Homo sapiens: one gene and its partner. The protein of the gene in region 2 interacts with the protein of the main gene of each other region in a pairwise test. Each region holds a gene or a part of one and is shown on either strand. Other genes may lie near its edges.

What was found. Proteins that work in one complex are often made in the same cells at the same time.
Region 1: the proteins of PRPH2 (region 2) and SH3GLB1 interact in binary tests that used the Homo sapiens proteins (3 or more experiments, as listed by UniProt).

The regions. Positions count from the first base shown.
Region 1 is NC_000001.11:86,739,076-86,742,575, forward strand, and holds part of SH3GLB1 (endophilin-B1), read left to right. Parts: intron 1-3,132; coding exon 3,133-3,361; intron 3,362-3,500. UniProt on the Homo sapiens protein: May be required for normal outer mitochondrial membrane dynamics. Required for coatomer-mediated retrograde transport in certain cells. May recruit other proteins to membranes with high curvature. May promote membrane fusion.
Region 2 is NC_000006.12:42,719,798-42,724,074, reverse strand, and holds the start of PRPH2 (peripherin-2), read left to right. Parts: upstream 1-1,477; 5' UTR 1,478-1,740; coding exon 1,741-2,321; intron 2,322-4,277.

The DNA.
Region 1 (3,500 bases), on a different chromosome or scaffold from region 2:
AATATGTTAAGTTTGAGATGTCTCTTAAACATTTAAGTGGAGGTATCCAATTTTAGGATATGCAGGTCTGGACTTGGATTGGGGGCAGGGTGAATTAGATAATTAGAGAGTTGTCAGCATATCAAAGATATTTAAATCTGTGAGACTAGATAAACCCTCAAAGGAGTAAGTATAGAGAAAAGGAGAGGATCAAGGACTGATCCCTGAAGTACTCTAGCATAGAGAGTTGAGGAACGAGGCAAGGAAGATGATAACGAGTGAGGCAGTGAGGTAAAATGGAAACTAAGAGTATGGCCTGGAAGTCAAGTGAACATGTGTGAAAGTGGGAGAGAATGGTCACTGCCTAGGTCAAGTGAGAGGACTACGAATTGACCATTGGATTTAGGAACATTAAAGTCATTGCTAACCTTGACGAGTAGTTTTGGTGAAACAGTAGGCGCAAAGTAATGTTTGTAATATAAGAGACTCGGAGGAGAGGAATTGTGACCGTAAGAATACGTAAATCTTTCAAGGGGTTTTGGTGTAAAGGGGAACAGAGGAATGAGGCAGTAGTCGGAGGAGAAAGTGGGGTCTAGCAATTTTTTGCTTGTTTTTTAAGATAGGAGAAATAAGGGCATGTTTGTAAGCTGATGGGAATGATACACTAGGTGGAGAAAATATGATAATGTGGGAGGGAAAGGGAAGAATTGCTAGAGTGATACCCTAGAGAGGCAAAAAAGGATGAGATTTTGTGCACATATGGAGGAATTAGCATCAGGAGCATAGACAGCTCATTAAAGAGTTTCCTGGCCAGGCGCAGTGGCTCATGCCTGTAATCCCAGCACTTTGGGAGATCAAGGTGGGCAGATCACTTGAGCTCAGGAGTTTGAGATTAGCCTGGTCAATATGGTGAAACGCTGTCTCTACAAAAAAATACAAAAATTAACTGGGTGTGGAGGTGCATGTCTGTAGTCCCAGCTACTCAGGAAGCTGAGGCGAGAGAATTGCTTGCTTAAGCCCAGGAAGCAGAGGTTGCAGTGAGCCAAGATTGAACCACTGCACTACAGCCTGGGCAAAAGGAATGAACTCCTGTATCAAAAAAAAAAAAAGGAGTTCCTGATTGTTCTTTTTTCCTCTCAGTTAAAAGGAAGCAAGCTCATCAACTGAGTGTAATGGTTATGGGGAGAACTGCTGAAATTTTGAGGATGGGCAAGAGGGTATGAAATAGTCATCAGGGGAATGAAAGTGAAAGTGAATGGAGTAGAGAAATGTAGTATCATTGCCAGGTGGCATGTGGACCCACTTGAGGTTCCTAGTCATAAATTGAATGTAAAACAAAGCTTTTCTGTGTTTCTCCTGTTAAAGTAGATGCATGGATACTGAATAGGTAAATAGGTTTTTACCAAATCAGTACAATGAAGTGAGTGGCATAAGAAATGAGAGCATATCTAAGAGTTATTATAATAATTAACTATGGACATGAAGAAGGTGTTGGTAGGATCATAGACCCTGGTAGGCTTGTTGATGTGAGAGCACTTGAAAGAAAAAGGCGATGGTCAAAGAATGGGATAGTAGAAACTATTATTATTGGAAGGGTTGTGGTTACTGGAATTGGTAAGATCTAGATGTGACTGTGGGAATAGGTGGCTGAACTAGGATCAGGTATGAAGTCACTAGAAGAGAAGAGTTCGAGGATCTAAGAGGCTAAAGGGTTGGAAGAATTGTCCATTTGGATATTAAAGTCACCAAGAATTAAGTAAGAGATAATGTCAGTGAGCCAGGTGATAAAATCTTCTAGAAATGAAAGTAAGGGAATGAGGCATCTGTAGGTGATTGCAGTAAGAGATACTGGGTATCTCTTTTTTTAAAGAGTTGGGAATGATACAATAGATGGAGAAAATGTAATATGGGAAGGAAAGATAATATGATAAAATGTAATATGATAAAATATGATAATGTGGGAGGAAAAGATGATGTGCTATAGTTGAATAACATGAAGTTGAAGGATTGGCTAGAATTGTTTAGGGAAAAGAGTCTAAAAACAGTGATGAAGAACATAAGACTCCTCCATTGACCTCTAGGTTCAGTGATAAAAGAGGAGTATGGGAGATAAACGCTAGCACTGGAGGATGAAGGGAAGGTTTAGAGAAGAGGTTAAGGATACAGGGAATTTTGCTGATGACTGAAATGATTTCCAGATGGTATAGTGCTCGTGAAGAGAAAAGAGGACTTTTCTAGTTTAATGAATTTATTAAAACTTTGAATTTTTGTAGATCATTTTTTAGCTTAGAAATGGTTGAATTAGAATGATGTCAGACCAGCTATTTTGTACTGTTTTATATTTGGTATTATTGGGGAAACTAGCCTTAAAATAAACTGAAAATTCTAATTATCTTCAAATTATTTATGAGCACATTAATCACAAAAATCACTAATTTCTAATAGAAAATTTTTCTAAAAAATAGCACAAATGAACTTGTAAAATTTGTCCTATTCTACCATTGAGTCTTCAATTTCATTGAGATAATTAGCAGTCATATTATTTGAATGTCTACCTTCTCACTATGTGTATGTCCTTAAGGGAATAGTATCATTTCATCTTACGTCTTCTGCTTCTCATAGTCATGCTGAACATGTAGATACAAGTAAATAATACTTACATGTAAATGACAATAAATATTTTATTTGAATAGGAAAATGTGATTGGACCAGTTTATGAAAAAAAGGTTTAGTTATTCAAATATTTCTCAAAGAATTAAATTAAGAAAGCCTCATACTTGTAGTATCTAATATTTAAGTAGTTTTTCATCAATATTTTTATTTAGTAATTTATAAAGAAAAGATTAAGAAAACATTCTAATGGAAGTTTTTTGGGGAAAAAAGTATAGCCATTAATTTTAAGTTAATATTATAAGGACAGTTTTGAAACAGACTTTCAAGGATTTATATTTGAATACCACCTGAATTGTCTCTAGTATAATTGGCCCAAGAGGGAAAAGGAAGATAGATATACTTTGTCATTAACGTATTATTAATATCTATAAATCTTTTCCAATGTGAAGGTTGGTAGAAAGTAAACAGCGCCACCGAGTGGTGGTATTAAGGAGCTTTAGTCACTTGGAAATAAATAATTCGCTGCTTTCTTTTCAACAGTTTTCCATCCAATTATCTTAGTAACAACAATCAGACTTCTGTGACACCTGTACCATCAGTTTTACCAAATGCGATTGGTTCTTCTGCCATGGCTTCAACAAGTGGCCTAGTAATCACCTCTCCTTCCAACCTCAGTGACCTTAAGGAGTGTAGTGGCAGCAGAAAGGCCAGGGTTCTCTATGATTATGATGCAGCAAACAGTACTGAATTATCACTTCTGGCAGATGAGGTGAGTATTGTGGGTATGAGAAGGAAAATATATCACGAATTGACATACCTTCTAATATTATAACAAAATGCAAATTCCTCATTAGTTATTTGGAAATGGTTTCATAGATTACAGATAGTTATATTAACATAAAATTTTA
Region 2 (4,277 bases):
ATGTATGGTGACAGAATTTTGACATACATTCAATTTGATGGATCGAGTTTGGTCTTTTTCTTTTTTTGAGACGTCATTTCACTCTTGTCACCCAGGCTGGAGTGCAATGGCGCAATCTTGGCTCACTGCAACCTCCACTTCCCGGGTTCAATTGATGCTCCTTCCTCAGCCTCACAAGTAACTGGGATTACAGGTGCCTGTCACCATACCCAGACAATTTTTGTATTTTTAGTAGAGACAGGGTTTCACCATGTTGGCCAGGCTGGTCTTGAATGCCTGACCTCAAGTGATCCACCCACCTTGGCCTTCCAAACTGCTGGGATTACAGGTGTGAACCACTGTGCCCGGCCAAGTTTGGTATTTTATTGTTGTTTGGATTTGCATTTTCCTGCTTATTACCCAAGTTGAGATCTTTTCCAGATTATTGGACTTTTCAAGTTTCCTAATTATGAATTGTCTGTTCCTGGTTTTTGCCTATTTTTCCAGTTGATTATTGGTCTTTTGATTGTGAATTTTTGTTTATTGTGAATTTGTGAGACTTAAAACATTTTTGCATATTAATTCTTTTTTTTTTTTTTCCAGACAGAGTCTCACTGTCACCCAGGCTGGAGTGCAATGTGGGGATCTCAGTTCAGTGCAACCTCCACCTCCTGGGCTCAAGCGATCCACCTGCCTTGGCCTCCCAAAGTACTGGGATTACAGGCATAAGCCACCATGCCTGGCCACTGTATATTACTTTTTAATTTTACAAGTTGCAAATGTTTTCTCACGATCTGTCACTTTCTTTCTTTCCTTCCTTCTTCTCTTCTTTTCTTTGTCTTTTTAAAATTTGAGACAGGGCCTCACTCTGTCACCCAGGCTGGAGTGCAGTGGCACGATCATGGCTCAGTGCAGCCTTGAACTCCCCAGGCTCAGGTGATCTTGCCACCTCAGCCTCCAGAGTAGCTGGGAGAACTACAGGTGCATGCCACCATACCCAGCTAATTTTTTTTTTTTTTTTTTTGTGTGTGTGTGTGTGTGTGTGGAGATGGGGTCTTCCTATGTAGCCCAGGCTGGTCTTGAACTCCTGGGCTCAAGTGATCCACCCAACTTGGTCTCCCAAAGTGCTGGGATTATAGGCGTGATCCACTGTGCCTGGCCCTGTCATTTCTTTTCTCAGAGAGGATAACAATTTATTTGTCCTACAGAAAGTTTTAAATGTTGAAGGAGATTGGCCTGGAAATATGCTTTTGGGGAGCAACACGGTCTGAGCCAGACATCCAGATACAGCCCATTCTTCTGGCCAGTCTTGCCCTTTGCTCCTGATTCTCCAAGCTGTACCCAGAGCTTTCTGGTTCAGCATGTACCTGGAGGCTGCTTTTGACCATGTTTTGAGAGTGGCATGGCTTTATCTAATGGGATGAACCTGGCTAAAGAGATTAGCAAAATGTCTTGTGGATCCCACTTTTAATCTGCAGCGTTCAGGCTGCCCCTTCTTGGCTGGGAAGGGCGCTGAAGAAACAACGCCCAGGACCAGGACTATCCCCTGCTCAAGCTGTGATTCCGAGACCCCTGCCACCACTACTGCATTCACGGGGATCCCAGGCTAGTGGGACTCGACATGGGTAGCCCCCAGGGCAGCTCCCTACAGCTTGGGCCATCTGCACTTTTCCCAAGGCCCTAAGTCTCCGCCTCTGGGCTCGTTAAGGTTTGGGGTGGGAGCTGTGCTGTGGGAAGCAACCCGGACTACACTTGGCAAGCATGGCGCTACTGAAAGTCAAGTTTGACCAGAAGAAGCGGGTCAAGTTGGCCCAAGGGCTCTGGCTCATGAACTGGTTCTCCGTGTTGGCTGGCATCATCATCTTCAGCCTAGGACTGTTCCTGAAGATTGAACTCCGAAAGAGGAGCGATGTGATGAATAATTCTGAGAGCCATTTTGTGCCCAACTCATTGATAGGGATGGGGGTGCTATCCTGTGTCTTCAACTCGCTGGCTGGGAAGATCTGCTACGACGCCCTGGACCCAGCCAAGTATGCCAGATGGAAGCCCTGGCTGAAGCCGTACCTGGCTATCTGTGTTCTCTTCAACATCATCCTCTTCCTTGTGGCTCTCTGCTGCTTTCTGCTTCGGGGCTCGCTGGAGAACACCCTGGGCCAAGGGCTCAAGAACGGCATGAAGTACTACCGGGACACAGACACCCCTGGCAGGTGTTTCATGAAGAAGACCATCGACATGCTGCAGATCGAGTTCAAATGCTGCGGCAACAACGGTTTTCGGGACTGGTTTGAGATTCAGTGGATCAGCAATCGCTACCTGGACTTTTCCTCCAAAGAAGTCAAAGAGTGAGTGGCTTCCAGTCCTGGGGTCAGAGCTATGAATATATTGGGGACACTGAGGCTCAGGCCTCTGACCAGCCCCTCTCCCCGCACCCAGTGCCTTTTCCTCTCCATCGGGTGCACAACTTATTGCTGCGTATGTGAGGGTGTATCAGGTGGAACCATATGAAATTGCTAATATTCTACCTCTTTGACCCATAAAAAATGACAACTTCATAGGGTTCAACCTAACATTGGCTAAGGTGGTAGGAAGGTATCAATTTATATAAGCTGTTTGGATAGGAGCCCCTTGGGATGAAGAGCCAGGCAGCAATGTGTGTCCACTTTATACAGAGGGATGGAAGTCATTCATAGATCACAAACACTGAGGTACTATTTGGCTATTTGTCCCATTCATTCAAAGTAGATGGATTCAGTCCCAGAAGTTTAAATTTCCTAGTTAGTTCCCTTGTTTTCCAACCTTTCAACCCTGAGCATCCATTCCCAAGATGTTTGTCTGGATATGTTGGAAAGAGCATAGGAAGGGGAAGTCATGAGATCTAGGGTGAAGTTTTGGTTCTGTTGTTCAAGGTCTTGTGACCTTGGGCAGGTCACTAGTCACTCTGCGCTTTGGCTTGCCCATCTTTTAAATGAGCACTGGAATAGAATAGGTAATTTTGGAAGTCACCTCCTAGCCCTGCCTGGTAGCTGGCATGCAGCAGGTACTCATTAAATGCTTGCTGGTGTTTACTTAGCGAGTCATGATAGTGCAATGTGATAAAGCATTTCTAAAGTATTCTTGGCATATGTAAAAGTAAAATGCTGCGATGGGCTGTGGGAGGTGCTGGTGAGAGAGAGACTCTCGACCACTGTGTCGGAGGGAACAGCCTGTGCACTGGCTCCAGCGGGCTGCTCTTCCCAACACACCCACCAACCTGGGGCTCGAGTGACTTTTCAGGGAAAGGGCAGCCTGCCTTGAGGCAGCCGCTTTCCCTCACCTCTTCTTTCTGTCTGACTCGACCCTACCTGGCTGAGGTTAGGGGTTCAGTTATTCCTAAGGGTGGTTTTTTTTTCTTCCCAGTGAGGCTGGCAAGTCCAAAGGGAACTTGAACTCAGGGCATTGGCACCAGCAGCAGGACATGTTTGAAGCCCAAAACAACATTAATGACGCCCAAATAGCTAGCTTATATCTGCCCTGCAGATGGAAGGGACGTCCAAGTGAAGGTCACTTCTTGGGATTTTATTTTCTTGTGGATGGAGATTACTGCTGCAAATCCCCAGTCAGGAGAGGATTGTAAAGGGCTGTGCCCTTCCCAGGTGACAGGTCTGCAGGGGCAGCACAAGATGCCACGATTTACATAAATCTCCCGAGGAGGGCATGAAGCCAGGGGGACAAGCAGAATTCTGGGGAGTGGGAGAGGCCGATGGTAGAACCAGCCTCTGTGAGCAGAGGCTCACAGAGAAGGGGCTTTTCATCTTTTCCTCTATCATTTCCCTTGATTGTCTCCTGCATAGAGTCAGTTCTTGGACAGATGTATTCAAATCTCTCGGTAACTCCAAATCCCCTTTTGTATCAGAGTGAAGGAATTATCTAGGTCACTCCACTCTCAATGGTCAATGGATCCAAAATTTCAGGCAAATATTTAGCTGAATCAAAACTCCTTCAATGTCCCATACCAACTTGTTGGTGGGAAATTTTCCTAACTCCACTGACTTGGAAAAATTCTTCTATTACACGCACAAAAAATACAGCAGTAATATTAAAAGAAGCCAAAATAGGAAAACAAATTCAAGCTAGCTTCTCACCCATAACTTGATTAATGCCTTTAGTTTTTCTACATTTCAGTTTCAGTCTAGTCTTGTTAACATTTACATAATCATACAGTGTAATGATAGTATAAAGACAATTTAGGGCCGGGTGCGGTAGCTCACACCTGTAATCCCAGCACTTTGGGAGGCCGAGGCGGGCGGATCACCTGAGTT